Linked DNA regions of Homo sapiens: all the other regions are reported to be linked to region 2. Evidence: microRNA targets listed by miRTarBase, many of them from high-throughput screens and not tested one by one. Region 2 holds a microRNA gene; each other region holds the end of a gene's coding sequence. Distances are from middle to middle.

What was found. The annotated mature microRNA hsa-miR-8485 reads CACACACACACACACACGUAU and lies in region 2 at 1,405-1,425, opposite strand. An mRNA with a match to its seed (bases 2 to 7 or 8) in the 3' UTR can be bound and repressed. Matches are read on the target gene's strand: a 7mer-m8 pairs with bases 2 to 8, a 7mer-A1 pairs with bases 2 to 7 and ends in A, and an 8mer does both.
Region 1: the mRNA of CCDC174 is a reported target of hsa-miR-8485. Seed matches in the 3' UTR shown: 7mer-m8 at 2,157-2,163.
Region 3: the mRNA of ACSL4 is a reported target of hsa-miR-8485. Seed matches in the 3' UTR shown: 7mer-m8 at 1,590-1,596, 7mer-m8 at 1,588-1,594, 7mer-m8 at 1,586-1,592, 7mer-m8 at 1,584-1,590 and 7mer-m8 at 1,582-1,588.
Region 4: the mRNA of GEMIN6 is a reported target of hsa-miR-8485. Seed matches in the 3' UTR shown: 7mer-m8 at 635-641, 7mer-m8 at 637-643, 8mer at 639-646, 7mer-m8 at 647-653, 7mer-m8 at 649-655, 7mer-m8 at 651-657 and 1 more.
Region 5: the mRNA of CACUL1 is a reported target of hsa-miR-8485. The part of its 3' UTR that is shown has no 7-base or 8-base seed match.

The regions. Positions count from the first base shown.
Region 1 is chr3:14,669,674-14,673,633 of GRCh38, forward strand. CCDC174 (coiled-coil domain containing 174) reads left to right here. Exons shown (of 11, transcript NM_016474.5): 10 at 261-413; 11 at 1,223-2,982. The coding sequence ends at 1,521. Among named protein-coding and RNA genes, the nearest start is that of C3orf20, 3.5 kb to the right of the region's middle. RefSeq lists enhancers at 1,311-2,510, 2,445-2,654.
Region 2 is chr2:50,694,768-50,698,801 of GRCh38, forward strand. It overlaps MIR8485 (microRNA 8485), which reads right to left and starts at 1,495; the gene lies at 1,405-1,495. All of the region lies in intron 5 of NRXN1 (neurexin 1), which reads right to left.
Region 3 is chrX:109,640,998-109,645,031 of GRCh38, forward strand. ACSL4 (acyl-CoA synthetase long chain family member 4) reads right to left here. Exons shown (of 16, transcript NM_001318510.2): 16 at 338-3,189. The coding sequence ends at 3,032. Among named protein-coding and RNA genes, the nearest start is that of KCNE5, 18 kb to the left of the region's middle.
Region 4 is chr2:38,781,342-38,784,341 of GRCh38, forward strand. It overlaps GEMIN6 (gem nuclear organelle associated protein 6), which reads left to right. Exons shown (of 3, transcript NM_024775.10): 3 at 176-3,000. The coding sequence ends at 551. Among named protein-coding and RNA genes, the nearest start is that of GEMIN6, 4.6 kb to the left of the region's middle.
Region 5 is chr10:118,683,122-118,687,155 of GRCh38, forward strand. CACUL1 (CDK2 associated cullin domain 1) reads right to left here. Exons shown (of 9, transcript NM_153810.5): 8 at 3,477-3,520; 9 at 1-3,047. The coding sequence ends at 3,007. Among named protein-coding and RNA genes, the nearest start is that of CACUL1, 70 kb to the right of the region's middle.

The DNA of each region.
Region 1 (3,960 bases), not on the chromosome of region 2:
TTTCTACCTGTGTACCATTTCTGAGCTTAATTTTCCCCCTCTATAAAATGGGGATAATATGGAAGTATTGAATTTATTAGGATTGTTACAAGAATTAAATGACCTGTTGTATACAAAAGACTTAATCCACTGCCTGGGACATGTTAGGTACTTCATAAATACTGATGGTTACTTTTACTTTCAGGATTAGCATGTTCTGTATTTTTAAAAATAGCTTTAGGCTTTTTTATAACAGTGTCTTATTCTTTTACAAAAAATAGATGGAGATGTTATTGGGCCTTTGCCACCGGAGCCAGAGGCTGTGCCAACCCCACGTCCTGCTGCCCAGAGTAGCAAAGTAGAAGTCATTGTCCAGGAGAGGAAGGACACCAAGCCTGGAGTGCCACACATCCGGGAGTGGGACCGCGGAAAAGGTAAGGGAGGTGGGCTCTGAGGTGTAAGAACTCTCCAGTGAATGGAAAATGGTTTTTTTTCTAGAAGCACTTGGGGTAAGTTTTAACTTCGTGCTGCCTTGTGTGGTTTTACAGCTTTGGAATGCCATTTCTCAGGACCTGCCTTTAAAGTATTATGAAAGTTTGGTGTTCTCATATGCTCTGTTTTTAGCAGCCTCTTTTATGTTCAGTTGAAAATGGTCTACATGCCAGTGTACTAACCTGGATTCACACATGGTTCCATTGGGGAATTTCCCTGGACATTTTTTCTGTAAATTCTCCAGAGTGTCCACAGCAGCCTCTCTGGAAGACTATGGTTTATGCCTCTTTGAAAAAGATCATTTCAGTAGAACATTAGCCCATGCTGTCTGAGCTGATAAGATCCAAAGCTAAAGTAAGAGAAATGCAAGAGCCACTGTTAGAAATAGAGATGAAATACCAGACAAGGTTGGACAGTTCCCTTTTGTGTCTTCCAAAACTCAATAACGGACAAAATTTGTATTTTGGTATGAAATACCTACAATGTCATGTCAAGCAGATAATTTGTCTGTATTTCTCTTTTTCTGTATTTCCCCATCTAGAGATAGTCACTCCCTTTTCTTAGCCTGGTCTTTTATACTCGTTGTAGGTATTACTTATACCTTGTAATATAGTTTTGCTGTTGCCATTCTTATTCTTTGGATAATTTGTGGTGGCTTTTAAGAAATATATGATACAATTAGATAATAGTAACAATAAATTCAACTGATTCGTTAATCAGTTCTAATAACTTTCTTTCTTATTTTTACCAGAATTTTCCTTTGGATACTGGTCGAAGAGGCAGTCAGATCTCCGGGCTGAGAGAGATCCTGAGTTTGCCCCGCCGTCAGATTACTTTGTGGGTCAGAAGAGAACTGGTTTTTCCAGCAGCCAGGCATGGAGCAGACCTGGGCCAGCACAGAGTGACCCAGGGCAGTGCCCTGACCAGAGCCACGGACCTAGCCCTGAACATACGTCACCCACTCCTGCCCCCGACAACCCACCACAAGCCCCCACAGTTACTTTCAAAACTCTGGATGACATGATTTCCTATTACAAACAAGTGACATGATCTTTCAAAGCACGCTGACTTGGGTTTGTACTTTGACAGTGCCTTTCTCTCCCAGAGGGAGAAATAACTTTAGGAACTGAATTGTACCTTTGTCCTGTCCTTTCCCTAGGAGGCACAGACTTCGGGTTGGATTTGTCAGCAAGGAGGAAAGTTATGGAAACTTTGGCCACTTGGCTGTTCATTTTATTCTAAGTGGGATAGGGACATACCTACCTGGATTTACATGTGAGCTGCGATAGAATAGAAGTATTTATTCTGTAAAATTAGACACTGAGATGTGCTTATAACCCTGTTTCATATCTACTCCCACGACTTACTCATATTTAAGGGTTCTTTTCCATTCCTTTTGCAAATCCGAGCATGCAGGTGTCTTTATTCCAAGGGTTCAGCTTCCAGATCAGCCGATGGACCATAGGTCACGAGGAATTTCTCCCTGTCAAGCAGTGGAAAACTGCATGGGAGGCAAAATGCTCTGTTCTCCAAGAGGACCCGGAAGTAATCACATAGGAAATGATAAGGAAGACCAGGAGGAGCTCTTCGTAGTCCAGAAAGGTAGAAGTGGGAGTTGTTTACTTAATTTTACTGTCATACCATGCTATTACCTACACTCCTGTGTGCAGTGGGCATTCAGTAAATGTGTGTTGAAGGACTGGGACGTACGTGGAGGCTGCTGGACCTGGTCAGAGACTGATGTGCCTTAGCGGCAATGGTTAGAGCTTTTCAGTGCATCCCACCTCCCTGTCGCCCCCATGCTCGGCTTCCTCACATTCAGGAGCCTGACTTGGATCAGACTTGGGGCTGCACAGTGGAGCAGGTGGGTTCCCGTGTCATTAGTAATAAGGAGAGGGTTGGGGGTGGGCAGGGCTCCAGAAAGTCAGCAGTGTGCCTGGGCACCCACCCCATCCTCTACCTGCCACACCTCAGAGGGTTCCTACAGCTGCACACAAGCAGTTGAGAGTTGATGACCAGGCCCATAGGGCTCCCACAGCTGGTTCCCAGGCCAGTGAGTGCTGTGAGAATACAGTAGCACAAGTCCTTGTTCTCTGAAGAGTGGGAAGGAGAGGAGTGAGTGAAGTAGCCTGTCCCCTGCAGGTCCTCTGCGATGGCATTGTCTCGGTTCCCGCAGTGCTGCAGTGTGGAAGGGAGTGCCCCATCCTCATTACAGATGACACACTGGAGTGTGGAGGGGTCGATGACTTGTGCAGGGTCATATGGTACCTAAGGGGCAGATCTCAGACTTAAACACAATTGATGTCTAACCCCTAGACAGTCTTTTTAGTGCCCTCTGCTCTCAGTCTTGTTGCCCTAGTATCAAGCAATCTTAGACAAACATCCTGAATTCTTACAAACTTACCTCTAAACTCTGAGGATAAAGTTGCCAGTCCTTTTAATGGTCAGCCTAATCATTCTGTCAGCCTAATCGGGTAATTGCTTTTTTTAATAAATACACATAAAAACCAACTAACCCAGCTGCCTTTTTTGCAGAAATTGACAAGCTAATCTTAAAATTCACATGGAAATGCAAGGAACCCAGAATAGTCAAAACAATCTAGAGAAAAAACAAAGAGGACTCACACTTCCTGATTTCAAGATTGACCACAAAGCTACGATAATCTACACAGTGTGGTAGTGGCATAAGAATAGACACATAGATCAGTGGAATAGAGGCGAGAGTCCAGAAATAAAACATATATCCGTGGTCAATTGATTTTTGACAGTGGTGCCAGGACCATCCAGTGGGGAAAGAGCAGTCTTTTCAACAAATGGTTCTGGGACAAGTGAATATTCCATGCAAAAGAATGGGTTTGGACTTCTGCCTCACACCACATACAAAAAATCAACTCACGATGAATCAAAGACCTAAATGTAAGAGCTAAAACTACAAAACCTACTGAAACAGCTTGTAGGATAAAGAGGGAGGAGACAAAAAGAAAAATTGGAATACTAAAAAGAAAAATAGAATTATTAGACATGCTAGAATCATAGGAAAAATAGAAAAAAGAAAGGGTAGAAAGAAAACAGCTGGGCACGGTGGCTCACGCCTGTAATCCCAGCACTTTGGGAGGCCAAGGCGGGCGGATCACGAGGTCAGGAGATCGAGACCATCCTGGCTAACACGGTGAAACCCTGTCTCTACTAAAAATACAAAAAATTAGCCAGGCGTGGTGGCAGGTGCCTGTGGTCCCAGCTACTCAGGAGGCTGAGGCAGGAGAATGGCATGAACCCAGGAGGCGGAGCTTGCAGTAAGCCAAGATCGCGCCACTGCACTCTAGCCTGGGCAACAAGAGCAAGGCTGTGTCTCAAAAAAAAAAAAAAAAACAATGAATAGACAAAGAAAGATGGAAAGAGGATGTGTGTGTAACCCAGAGCAGAAGGACTTGAGGCTGACTGTGGAGTAGAAAGGAGAAGGGAGACAGAGACAAGGCAGGCAGCAGGAAG
Region 2 (4,034 bases):
TTCATATTTAATCCAGAAAATGCTCTCTGGAACAAAAGTAATCATTACAAAATAAAGGCTTTATTCTACATTTTAGCAATAGTCTTTCCTTGGCTTATAAAAAATTAATTGCGGGGTATTCTCTTGATTGGGTACTTTAGATCCTGGTGACTGTTCTAACTGATGGGGCTGAAAGACAGTTCCCTTATCTCATAGCCAAATCACCTCCATGCAAATTGATCTGGGAGTGCCTTTAGAATAAACACAGCTGGATTCTCTGCAGCCATTTATGGGTCCAGTTTCCTAGGCTTAATTTTGATTTATAACTACTGAAATTAAATTAGCCATCTTCACTGCTTAAGGGTGGCTTTGATTTCACCAGTGCAGTAGGGAGACTATTTACCAACATATTTTATCAGTAACATTTCAACCTGGGTAAGGGGGTGGCGGTGGGGGGAAGGCATCTTATCTTTGGTATTTGTACTTGAGATTCCTTCAGAATATTTTAATTGTATTATTTACCGACAAATGTGAGGATTAGATTGTCAAATCAGACTCACATGAATTAAAGATCTTGCCCAGCATCAAGCTTTGCTAAATAATTTCAAGGATATAAGCTATCAAGTTCAGATAAGGTGCATCATATAACATAAAGTGGTGTACCTTATGTCATATGCTCCAGGTAGCCCTGCCTCATAGATCCTGGGTTCTATTAACTATGGGTAATCCCTTAGCCAGAGACATCTTGCTAGGGACAGAGATATAGTCTCTTATTCATAGTAAGTAACATTAGTCTATTTCCATTTGACAAAGAGATTAGACTAAGTCTTTGCTTTCCTCTAGGAGCACAAATTATTGTACAAAACGAGAAACAAAATTTGAGAGATTAAAATATGTGAAATATGTTAATAGTTCTAAGAAGGCTTTTATCTAGAACACGGTAATAAATGTCGACGTGCTATAGTAGGAAGAGTTGAAGATAAATGGTTAGATATCGCTTTTTATCCATATGACTTTGTGCATTAGTTTTTTGAGCCTCAGTTTTACTAATATTCCAAAGGATTAGGGAAATAAGCCTAACCAGAGTGACTCTGATTTTTTTTTTTTTTTTTTTGAGATGGAGCTTCGCTCTTTCACTCAGGCTGGAGTGCAGTGGCACAATCTTGGCTCACTGCAACCTCTGCCCTCCAGCTTCAAGCGATTCTTCTGTCTCAGCCTCCCAAGCAGCTGGGATTACAGGCGCCCACCACCATGCTTGGCTAATTTTTGTATTTTTAGCAGAGATGGGGTTTCACCATGTTGGGCAGGCTGGTCTTGAACTCCTGACCTCAGGTGATCCATCCGCCTCAGCCTCCGAAAGTGCTAGGATTACAGGCAAGAGCCACCACACCCAGTCGACTATGGAAATTTTAAAAGACAGTACATATACGTGTGTGTGTGTGTGTGTGTGTGTGTGTGTGTGTGTGTATGTATACACATATGCTATATACACACACACACACACGTATATCACAGAACTGAAGACCATAAAATGTTCTATACATATGAAAAAATGAGAATTTGAAATGTACATAATTCTTCACACAGATAGCTGACAGTGTTATAAATCTCCTTTCTTATAAATAAGAAAAACAGTCTCAGAAGTAAGTAATATTCTGATGGAGAGTTAGAAAAGAAAACCTGTCTTACAACTCTTTAAACATGCTTCTCCTCTAAGCTAAATCATAGTTTGCTAAAGAAGGTCGTGATAAGGTAGAAGAAAGACAAGAAAAGCCAAGGCAATGGGGTGAAGCAGGCGGAGAAAACTGTTTATGCCTCTTCTTCCAATGTCTATTTATTTTCTTTGTGGTTCTGAGCAACTATTTCTTCTTTTATCTTGCAACTGTCAAAGCAGCTCTCTGTAGAGAAACCAGCAAGCACACCCATTAAAACCAAAGCATGAATTTTCGGGTGAGGATCAGTGAGGCTCTCTTAAGAATACCTGAATTTTCACAGAGATAAACATATTTATTTGATTTAAATGGTAGAAAGTGTTAATTACTAAGTTTCATATACTACCAGGAGTCATAGAGAAGTCATTTTGGAGACCAAGAGTATATTCCTAGACCATGTAATCACATCATTTGAGTAGCTGCTTACTGAGTTTATTCACAATGAAAGCCTGATACATAAATTCTTTAAACAGAAACCAGTGGCATTGTTAATTTCCACTTTTGTTTCCAAATTGTTGCTTTTGTCTCATTGAGAGCATATTACTTACTTCAAGCACCTTAACAAACAAAGCTGGGTCATACACAAACGTCCTACTGTACCAGCAATAAGACAATATGAATACCCTGCAACCTCTCAACAACCAGAAGACAAAGATGTATTTGGAAGGGGCAGATGGGAAGTGAAAAAGAGAAATAAAATATACTTTACAGGGAATATTTTGCACACGTAATTCTGAGTGTTATATTTTTAGCTTGTATAAATAAACTTCATTAGTCTTCATTTTGAATATACAGGAAAAGTTTTTTTAGAAAAGACTCATTGTCACAAGCTGATAAGGTAAGTTAGGACAGTATATGATTAATATGCTACAATGATGTCTAAGAGAGAGGATGCTCATTAAATTTGTGTGTGACAAAAGTTGGAAAGAGTGTTAAGACCTTGAAATACTGGAGCATCTTTCAAAGTGAAACTTGACAAGTTAGAGAAATGGTCAGATAGAGAAATGGATTTTAATCAGACTGAAAGGAAAATTAATGTATTGGTTTTGTCAGTTGTACCTTCATCTTGAACGTAATGACTGCCTGTTACTTCCTCTGTGGTTTCATCCGAACCTAACGCGACACTCCCCTGAAAGGTCTCCTCTCTCCCTTCCTTGCTCTTCTGTAGCCCATGCTTCACTTCTCAACTATGGTGATGTTTTGAAGATGTGAATTAGATTACATCATTCTTTTCTTCAAATCCTCAAATAATATTTAGAATATAATTCAAATCCTGGGTTGCCATGGTCTACAAGGCCTCAAATAAAATAGGTTCTGCCCACATCTTTGTTTCATTTTCTTTCTTTTCTCTGCCTCCAGGTTGGCACTTTTGTTCCTTTAACTCTTCAATTTACCTTGGTGCTTTGTACCAGCTGTTCCCCCAAAGTAGACAGCTCTCCATAGCTCTTCACACGGCTGCACTTCCTGCTACTCTCACTTAAAGTCACTGCCTTGAGCCAATTTCGTTAATCTGGCTCTAAATAACAACACAACCCCATCTACACTACAGTTCATCCTAATACCAGTCTAATTTTCTTCATAACACCTATCATTATCTGAAATCATCTTAGTTGTTTCACTTTAGAATCCTCCTTCTCTCATGAGAAAGTAAACATTGTGCGGGCAGGGTCATGGTCTTGTTTGTCCTGTACTTCCCACCCGTACAGCAGTGCTGGCACTTAGTAGGTGCTCAGTAGATATTCGTTGACAGTATAAGACAGAAGTCCTCAAATGTTGTCCAAGGACATTTGGTAGTCCCTGAGACTTTCGGGAGGGCCAAGGGCCAAAATCTTTTTCATCATCTCACAAATATACAACGGTGCTGTCTAGAGGCCAAAGGATATATGCTATCACAAAAGATTGCCTGCAGAAGTAGTTGTGAGAATCTAGCTCTCTTAAGCCAAACATCAAAGAGATTGTCAATAATGTAAAATAAGTCACTCTTCTCACAAAATTATCTTAGTGTTGGAATATAATTATTTTTCATAAAAGTACACAATTTATTTTAACATGCAACATGCAATGTGGTGGCTATTTTAAAATGAATTAATAAATATATAAATGTTTTCTCAGTCAATTCTCAATAGAGTAAACACTAATACATATACATAACCTATACAACAAACATAAACTTCTCAGAGGTTTTCAATACATTTAAAAAGTAAAAAGGGATCTTGAATCCAAAAATGTGAAAACCACTGAAACAGAATCTCATCAACTAGTCTCCATTATTCCCTAGAAAACATCCAGTAGAACTTTCTTCTCCAGTTAAAATTGCCCTCAAAGAAGGTTTTCTCTTTCCTG
Region 3 (4,034 bases), not on the chromosome of region 2:
TTATACACACCCTCATATAACTCAAATTAATTTCTCTCTAAAATATTAATTAGCCTAAAAGTAGCAGTTATAATTTGGTAGCGCCCACTGATAATCCATGTTTTGTCCCAAAGTATCAGTGTTACAAAGGGGTTTTACTCTATTGACTGGACCAAAGTAACAGTTTGGGATTCAAATACTCTGAACTAATGGATGGGACTATACAAGCCGGTTTAACTGCTTAATGCAATTCCATAAACCTGGAGATGAGTACTTTAAAAATATGTGTTTAAAAGTTTGGTTAATAATCTTCAAACTTGGAGATTTTATCTCAATGCATAATGAAGTACAAATTGGCTTGATAACATGGGTGGATTTATTTCTTAAGATTTGAGTGCAAACTTAAAAACAAGAACAAACAAAGCTTTTCATCAAGAATAAACACAAAATCTAAACAATTCTGCAATCATGCATTTTAACAGAAAGTACAAATATGAATACATTATAATTTGTAACTGCATTTAAAAATTAAAATATTTCTCTCCAAATCCAAAACACCACACAATCTTTATCTGTTCTCATCTTGTTACCTTAGAAACATTTGTCATATGCTATCAGGAAAATATAGGCAAGACTTACTAATCAGTTATTCATGATCAAAGAAACATGATTCTCCTTAACTGTGACTTTTTGAATCATTTATCTGTATTTCTGAAATATCACACAATTATACCTCTACTCTAGAGAAAAAAAGAATAAATACAAATATCAAGGAGGCAGGAACATTCATGGAATTAAAGCAAAAGTCACAAGTGTTTGACTTAGAAATGTACATATTGTAGTAAATTTTTAAAGTACAACTTTAGTTGATGGCTGATGTGTATGTAATAACTGTGAGCAATTTAAACAGGTATAAAAATGTGAGATCAAAATCTTTAGGCTTAAATACTTGAAAAGTCACTATGGATATGGAAAGATTTGTTTACATAAACATGTATATTTTTAGATGGAAAATCAAGGGGTAGTGGCATCTCCCTGGTCCCTTAACAATATTTGGATTTTTGCAAAGAATTAGCAGCACCCAACCTTAAGTGTTAATTATGTGTTTCTAAAGGACCTATAACAGATCAGTTGGCAGTGTTCTAGCTTTTGGGAGTTGGGGGCAGATTGGGGGTGCAAATATCTGAGATAAGATAGTACATGCACTCACACATTTAAAATCACCATTCTAAATGGGAAAAAAAATCACATATTGGAAAAGTCTAAGAAACTCATTCTTAAGGGATAAACAGCAGGGCAGGAATAAAAGCTGAACAGTAGTCTACTTGATAATAATGGTATTTCACTCTTCAAAGGCAAGTTGGGAAGAATGAGAATACTCACATACACATAACTTCAGGGAAAACTTGCCTAAAATTTTACCTTGCAAAACGCTGAACAGAAATCTTTACAAAAACCTTCATTCTTGTTTATAATACTTGATTTTTCCCTTATTACCACCATATACATAACATTTAAGTATTTTCTTCATAAATATTTTAGAGCAAAAAGAATGTATTTTGTTGCAATGGTGGCCCACATCTGTACAAAACAACATAAGCAACACACACACACACATATATATATGCATATATATAAAAAATGATTAAGAAAAAGTGCAAAGAATAACAGTATTAAGATTTTTTGCATTTTACAGTAACTATGGTTCAAGTGTGAATATTTATCAGGGATATATAATCCCAGGTTTTAATTAAAGATTCAAAAAGAAACCACACTCCCAAGTTACTGCACAAACATCAGTCCCTTATCAAGTAACTCTGCCCTTCTCCCAAATCTAGTATTTCCAGTTTCTAAGCTCTTCCCAAACAGGAAAAAATGATAACAGTGTTTTCTTCCCTTTAACTTCCCAAAACTCATCCAAGTTAATCACCTGTAAGTTCAAGCAAGATATTGGGGAAGTCATTCATTATAACCCGCTTTGCTAAAATTAAAGCAAAATGAAAGGCTTTCTGAAATGCAAACTACTGATCAAGAATAAAATCAGCAACAGCAAACAGACCTTAAATTACAAATGTAATTTAATACATGTACATTTTAAAATCAATCCCTGTTATCAAAGATAAATTCAGAGTTTAAATCTCTTTCCCAGGTTCAGTGCTGTGCAAGGGTTCTAATTCCAAATACTTATGATTTTATCACCTTTTCTAAGAGAAAATGTTTGCCTGTTAACTTTTTACCTTCCTTGCTCTTGGTCTCAGCTTTTCAGTTTGAATAAACACAGAAAGGCAATTTTCAGCATTTCAAAAAATGTACTTTCCTCTTAGTCATTCAAATAATTACAGTTATTTTTAGATCTCAAAGTTTCAAAAAAAGCAGCTCAATTTCCCTTTAAATATATTACTAGATATTTTTTGGTGTTGTATATGTTGTTCTATTCTTATTTTAGGCACTGTAATTATTCACAACATTACAATGACTCTATATCTAACCTATGCAACAATTATAATCTTAATACCTTCTAAGGTATTATTTGATTTTGTGTATTATATTACTATTGAATTTTTCCTTCAAGATAAATGGTTGGAAGAGAATTTTAAAGCCCTGCAGCACTTTTGCTTTGAGTAGTGTTAATACATATTTTCTGTCATGCTTAATATTTAAACTTCTGAAATAGGAAGACAAGAGGCATTGGAAGCTGCAAATTTCCTCAAACTACATTCTACTCCAACTCCAATTTATTTTGTTCAACATTAAATATTTTTCTTTACAAAAACAAGTATATCTTAGGCTAATTTTTAAAAACAGAATTTCTGCTCTATAATAACACAGCTAAAGGGAAATAACTTTTCAATTTCAGCTGCACTAGAACTATGCAAAACTAAGTTAAAGTAAACCGGACAACAATTTTAATAACTTTTGGTTTTGTTTTCTTTTTACTCTATCTTTAGAATGATATACCTTACATTCTAACAGTTCAACAAAGGCTTAAAATTCTAGAGGTTGAAAACCACCAGGCTACCTCCTGCACAACTGTCAATAAGACAACAACATTTTATTTGCCCCCATACATTCGTTCAATGTCTTTGAGGTAATGGTTCCTCAGCTCCTTCCTTTTCAGTTTGAAAGCATCAGTTACCAAACCAGTTTCAGGGGTCCATGGCTCTGGGCTTAATCGAACCTTGATTGGAATTTCAAATCGCTCCAATTTCACTGAAATTAGAAGTGAAAGATGGGAGAAAAGGAGAGGGGGGGAAAGAGACGAGAAAGGAGTGGGGACGGGGAAAGAAGGGGAAGGAGAAGCAATTAATAAAATATGAGTTTTTCAGGATTTACCTAGATGATTCGGGTGTTGAATCACCAATCACCACAAACTTATTTAATGGTATACTAGATAGTTTATTAATGCTACCTCTACCTTACAATTTCATTTTATATTTCTCAAAGTATACCTAAGTTGTTTCAGTTGGATAGTTTTAGTCTATGTGGTTATTAAAATATACATACATATACACATTATTTATACTCACACACACACACATACACACACATCTTCCTCTTCAGAGACTTTATATTTGCCTGAGATGGTCTTTCTCAATAAAGTTGTGTGTCACTTCCATACTTTATCCATATGTCTGCTCAAATACCACCACCCCGGAGAGGACATCCCTGACCACTCATAACAAAAGAGAAGGGGGAGGAGCCAAGATGGCCAAATACGAACAGCTCTGGTCTACAGCTCCCAGCCTGAGCGACACAGAAGACGGGTGATTTCTGCATTTCCATCTGAGGTACCAGGTTCATCTCACTAGGGAGTGCCAGACAGTGGGCGCAGGTCAGTGGGTGTGCGCACCATGCGCGAGCCGAAGCAGGGCGAGGCATTGCCTCACTCGGGAAGCACAAGGGGTCAGGGAGTTCCCTTTCCTAGTCAAAGAAACGGGTCACCTGGAAAATCGGGTCACTCCCACCCAAATACTGTGCTTTTCCGACAGGCTTAAAAAACGGTGCACCAGGAGATTATAGCCCGCACCTGGCTCGGAGGGTCCTACGCCCACGGA
Region 4 (3,000 bases), 12 Mb from region 2:
TTGGCTGTAGGCTGGGCAAAAAGTTTACCTATTTAGGATCCTTAGTGAATGTTTGTTGAATAAATGGAAGCATTCATTGGTGACAGGATTAATTTCAAACAGAGTAGAGTGTCATCTATTATTTTAGTGACCTACTTGGGTTGATGATGCCTCTAAACTTACTTTTCCTCCAAAGTATTGTCCTTGTGAACTTCCTTGAAGATGGCAGCATGTCTGTGACCGGAATTATGGGACATGCTGTGCAGACTGTTGAAACTATGAATGAAGGGGACCATAGAGTGAGGGAGAAGCTGATGCATTTGTTCACGTCTGGAGACTGCAAAGCATACAGCCCAGAGGATCTGGAAGAGAGAAAGAACAGCCTAAAGAAATGGCTTGAGAAGAACCACATCCCCATCACTGAACAGGGAGACGCTCCAAGGACTCTCTGTGTGGCTGGGGTCCTGACTATAGACCCACCATATGGTCCAGAAAATTGCAGCAGCTCTAATGAGATTATTCTGTCGCGTGTTCAGGATCTTATTGAAGGACATCTTACAGCTTCCCAATGAGAGGCCAGGAAGTGTGAACATACTGATAGAAAAAGACTATATTTTATCCCTCATAAAATGTTTTAAATGTAAATGTACATGACTGTGTGTGTGTATGTGTGTGTGTGTATAATTCTTTGTTGTTTTGGTAAAATCAGAGGAGTGGGTTATAAGTGCTAATTTCCTTGGGAAATTAATGAACTAGGGCAAGTATAGCATCCCATGCATAAAATTAGCACAGGGACATCAGAATTGTATGGGTCTTCTTTTTTCTTTTTTTCTTTTTTTTTTGAGATGGAGTCTCGCTCTGTTGCCAGGTTTGAGTGCAGTGGCGCAATCTCAGCTCAGTGCAACCTCCGCCTCCCAGGTTCAACCGATTCCCCTGCCTCAGCCTCTCGAGTAGCTGGGACTACAGGTGCACGCCACCACTCCCAGCTAATTTTTTGTATTTTAGTAGAGATGGGGTTTCACCTGTATGGGTCTTTTCTTGTGATGGGGTTACACCCCCATTTTTGTTAGGCAAGAAAAGCATTTGGAAAAAAATGTAACATGTTAGATTCAATATAAAATATTATGGTAAGATCATGGTCTTGTTAAGTCTCTTCACTAACTGTATGTGTCTGTTTTTAAAAGATGTGTCTTGGTGGGGCGCGGTGGCTCACGCCTGTAATCCCAGCACTTTGGGAGGCCGAGGCAGGTGGATCATGAGGTCAGGAGATCGAGACCATCCTGGCTAACACGGTGAAACCCCTTCTCTACTAAAAATACAAAAAAAATTAGCCGGGCGTGGTGGCAGGTGCCTGTAGTCCCAGCTACTCAGGAGGCTGAGGCAGGAGAATGGCATGAACCCGGGAGGCAGAGCTTGCAGTGAGCCGAGATCGCGCCACTGCACTCTAGCCTGGGTGACAGAGCGAGACTCCGTCTCAAAAAAAAAAAAAAAAATTATTGGAACACAGCATTACCTATTGAATTACAGTTTTCTGGTTTTTTTGTGGAGTTTTTGTTTTGGTTTTTGAGATGGAGTTTCACTCTTGTTCCCCAGGCTGGAGTGTAATAGTGCAATCTCGGCTTACCACAACCTCTGCCTCCCAGGTTCAAGCAATTCTCCTGCCTCAGCCTCCTGAGTAGCTGGTATTACAGGCATGCACCATCACGCCCCACTAATTTTGTATTTTTTTAGTAGAGACGGGGTTTTTCCATGTTGGTCAGGCTGGTCTCAAACTCCCGACCTCAGGTGATCCGCCCGCCTCGGCCTCCCAAAGTTCTGGGATTACAGGTGTGAGCCACCGTGCCCGGCTGTTTTTTGTGGGTTTTTTGTTTGTTTGTTTGTTTTTGAGACAGAGTCTTGCTCTGTCACTCAGGCTGGAGTGCAGTGGCACAATCTCGGCTCACTGCAACCTCTGCCTCCTGAGTTCAAGCCATTCTCCTGCCTCAGCCCCCTCAGTAGCTGGGATTACCAGGCACATAGCACCATGCCCAGCTAATGTTTGTATTTTTAGTAGAGACAGGGTTTCACCATGTTGACCAGGCTGGTCTTGAACTCCTGACCTCATGATCTGCCTGCCGTGGCCTCCCAAAGTGCTGGGATTATAGGCATGAGAGCCTCCGTGCCTGGCTTTTTTTTTTTTTTTTTTTTTTTAAAAGAGGGTCTTGATATGTTGCCCAGGCTTGTCTTCAACTCCTGGGTTCAAGTGATCCTTCCACCTTGGCCTCCCAAAGTGCTGGGAATATAGGTGTGAGCTGCCATGTCCAGCTGTAAGAAATATTTTAAAATATTTAAGCTTCAGGGCCTTTGAATACAGGCCCTGATAACATAGCTATTTTCCTGCATAGTTGTCTAATAACAAGATGGTATAGCCCAGTGCTTCTTGCACTTTAGCAAGCATCAGAATCAGCAAATATTTAGGTTTCAGGGCCTTTGAATACAGTCTGATAACACAGCTATTTTCCTGCATAGTTGTCTAATAACAAGATGGTATAGTCCAGTGCTTCCTGCATGTTGGCAAGCATCAGAATCAGCTGCAGGGCTTTTCAAAACAGATTGCTGGACCCTCCTCCCAACAGATTCTGATTCAGTAGTTCTAGTTGGGACCCAGGAATTTGCATTTCCAACAGACTCCCAGATAATGATGTTACCGTTCCCAGACCACACTTGCAGAAGCAGTTCAGAAACTTCAGGGGAACAGAAAGTTCCTCCCTCACGGCTTCAAAGTTCCATGATCCTGAAAGCAAAATTTAGCACACATCACCTTTCTCCTAGTGGCTAAGACTCTCCTGTTCAAACCCTGGATGTCTTCAGAAAGCAAATAGAAGGGGAATATGAACAGACTGAAGTCAGCAAGGAAATGACTGACAAGATGAGGGAGGCCTTTGAAAAGGAAGAAGCCAGCTGGGCGCGGTGGCTCACGCCTGTAATCCCAGCACTTTGGGAGGCCTAGGCGGGCCGATCACTTGAGGCCAGGATTTGTGA
Region 5 (4,034 bases), not on the chromosome of region 2:
TAAAACATGTACCGTCTCTCAAAACAATTATCGATTTACTTTTACATGTCATTTTTTCAAGATGACTGACCCGGCTTTCCTTTTAAGGAGCCAGTTTCAGGCTGCACATACATACTAGACAGTTGAAGCAAATCAGCCATTGACTAACCAGACAACCAGCCTGCATGTACGGTTTTGTATCTTCAATGATTTGGGCCTTTAGTGATGTGGTACAAAACCCAGTATGTAATTGGGGTAGAAAAACCATATACTGTACTGGCAAGAATACAAAAAAAAAAAAAAAAAAGGCCAGGTGCAGTGGCTCACACCTATAATCCCAGCACTTTGGGAGGCCGAGGTGGGTGGATCACTTGAGGTCAGGAGTTCAAGACCAGCCTGACCAACATGGTGAAACCCCGTCTCTACTAAAAACAAAATACAAAAAGTAGCCGGGCGTAGTGGCACGTGCCTGTAATTCCAGCTACTCAGGAGGCCGAGGCAGGAGAATCACTTGAACCCAGGAGGCAGAGGTTGCAGTGAGCTGAGATTGCACCACTGCACTCCAGCCTGGGTGAGAGAGTGAGACTCCATCTCAAAAACAAAATATAAGAAAACAGAAGAAAACAGTTTCTGGCAAACAGTCAATATAAAATGAGAGGAAGGAGGAGGAAATCTTATTTCCTCTCATACTGCAAACTCACTCAGAATTTTTTAGAATCCCAATAAATAAGCAAAGTCTATTTCAACTTAAACAGGTCCTTCAAACTGTGATGTGCCTCAAGGGGCCAAGATGATTAACAGCCAGGACATGTAGACTGGGAGACTATGTACAACCTTTCTATAGTGACTTCCAGTCAAGGTTTTGTTGTATTAAGAGCTGACCCATAGCCAGCTGCAGTCACTGTGCAAAAATTTAGAGAAACTAAATTTTGCAAACTTTACTTTGCCCACTTTTTATTAATACATACATAGTAAAAAGAATATATTTCTCCATGAACTTAATAATGCAAAAGCATCCAAAGATTTTAATGCCAATTCACATTATACTGTGATGCTTTTATAGGGAAAGTTCTTTTGTAAAAGAATGCTCTCTCCCAGAAAAAGCATTTGGGTATATTATTAGGATACTGAAGAATTTCTCCACATTTAGAAACATTCCAATTTTATTCCTTTCAGAAAAATTATTAATACCACTCACTCAGACTTCAGTTCTAGGTGTGATTGGTAAGCCTGAAGCAAGCATTCCATTGAGAAAAGTAAAATGTGAATGTCATGATGAATGGAATTCTCCTTGATACTAGAATGTTACCAGTGTAGCAACTTAAACTGTCCAGGTCATAGTGAGAGCCTGTCTATGTTCTTACAGTAATTCAGTGTTCATCGATGCAATCCAGGATGCTCACAGAGTGAATTGAGTCCAATTAAAGTCCACAAAATCCACGAACTCTGGTTAAGTACTTTAAAAAATAAATCTGACAACCTTTATCTTTACTTCTCTGTATAACAGTTTTACAAATCAAGGACTTCAATTATTGGGTGACTTACTTGCTCCCAATATCCCACTTCTAACTCTCCCACCCACACCACTCCCCCCAAAAAATAAACTGAATTGGCAGAGGCAGCTGTATGAAGAACCTGCAGAGCAGACATGCGACAGCATCCCTGGGATGTTTCTTTTCCCCTCAAGTTCTCTGAAGAGGTAAATACTATTAGTCTGATGTTGCCTAGTAGAGAAGCCTATGCTCAATTAAGATTCAAGCAAAATTGAGAAGAAAAGTATTTTTCTCTTGCCACATCTATTTTTCTTGGGCTTTCAACAACAGCTAGAATAAGCTTCAGAAACTTTTATGATGGACTAAAAAGCACTGTGGATGTGGAGAAACAGAAATATAGCTTTGCCACAGCTGGAAGGGAGCCTTAGGACAGCAGTGCTACTTCTTCCCTATCACACTCAAATATAATGTTCAAATGACAGACTTTTTTTAAGTAATTATCTCATTCATTTAAAATGAAGTGATCAGGAACCCCACACCACTGTGTATTTGGACTTAATAACTGTATCTGCTTCCTAGAGCATCGCAGGAAGTAGCTCTCAATAATACTAAGGGAAGCTTCCGTGCTAAAGTACCGCCCATCCCTAAACTAGAGTACTGCCAATACTATAGCAGCTGGTGACAGACATCGTGTTAAGTGGCACAGGGAATGGAAATGCTCTAGGAGAGTTGGTCCCCAACATTAATATGAATATGCTCTGGTGAACCAGGGGAAAATCCGACCCATGTGCAAAAGGTTTCTATTTTCCCACTTAATTAGCATCCTGCTACAGGGCCACACCTGCCATCTTGGTGGGTGAGTTTAGATACCATACACTTCTCCAGGAGGAGTTTGACAACATGGTCACACAGTTGCAAAGTGCACAAAGCTCAAGGCACAGAGTAGAAGAAAGTTGTGAACTGATGGGGGAAAGTTCTAGCAAAAGCAGAGTTAGCATTTTCCTTTAACAAGACTTTCTAATGCTAAACAAAGACCAACTCTTTTAAAAGGGGTTGTTTTGGTTGTGGGTGAAAAATACTGTACTGTAATGATCTGCTTGGTTTTAAAGCAAAAGAGATCCTGACATGTGAAACCAATACACCAAAATGCCAAGTCCACAAATGAACAAAACAAGTGCTTAAAAAAAAAATTCTTCTGCTCTTATATTTTTGGAGGAAGCTGCTGATTTTGGCTGTCAGATTTCACTTAGAAATGGTCACTTTCTGAGATGCTTTTTCCTCACAGAATCTGTAGATAAACTCATTAAAAGATTGTCCCATTTCAAAATCACCCCCAAGTCTAGCAGCAACGTTTTTTTTTTTTTTAGTTTTTGTTTTAAAATTACAAACCAAGTAAGAAGTCCAACATCCTCTTCCATGAACAGCTTTGTGACAGAGCTCCTGAGTGTGTGCAGCCCCCACTGTGCTCTGAATACAGTCTCTGCAGCTCCAGTGTGTCCTCTTTTCAGGAAGGAAAGCATATTCAATACATTCACTATCTGTACCCCCTGGAACTTGCACATGCTGACGAGCTATCTGAAAAAACATCAGAATAGGAAAAAGTATGAAGAGCAGACAGCATTTGATAACAGCAGGAATCTGTTTATTCAACACACATTTCTCACTCCTCTCCCAACTCCCCAAAAAAGGCTTAAAAAAAATCCTCAAAACCATGTGGGGTGGAGGGAAGTAAAAGGGGACTGAGAACCTAAGGAACTGGGACTGGGCTACGATGTCATCCCAGTAGAAACTAAAGAACCTGGTGGCCTCTTTCCAATGCCCTGAGAACCATCGCTACCAGCTGGAGCTGCCACAGCATGCAAAGCATCCTGACCTTGATTACAAGCAGTGCCTTATGAGAACAACATGGGTATCATCAAATTCAATGCACTGTTATCACAGTGCATTAATATGGCTGCTTTACATCACAGAACCATCAAGATGGGAAGGAACATCATTACTTACTATAAGCCAACTCATCCCCAGCTCTCTTCCGGGACTGGTCACCCCTGGGGATAAGAAGAGGCAGTCAACAAAACTGACTTCACATCAAAACAGGAGGAAAGGATCAACATATTTGATAATAAAAGTATAGCAGACATTTCAGTTCTAACCAAACCTATTTAAAAATACATATTAAACATCTTAGAATCCTGATGTACCTCACTATGCTTTCTGCAGATGGAAGAACATGAGCCTTTACCTGTATTAACCAGTTCATCCTCAAACACCTATGAAAGTTCTAATTCCACTTTAGAGTTAAGAAAATAGAGGTTCTGACTAGGCCCTAAGCTACCTACAAATCCTATTTTTGTGTCTCCAGCTTCTCAGACAATAACAGAAATGACTCAAATGCTTAGGTAATGAGAAATAATAATCACTACTAGCCTTTCTTCCTCAGCATTTATAAGTTGATTTCTTCCTGAAACACGATTTTTTTCTCTTTAGGTTTCAGTAATGCCACAGCACACATTCCTGACCTTACCTCACCCTGTCTGCCATCCTTTTGAGGTCTCCTTTGCT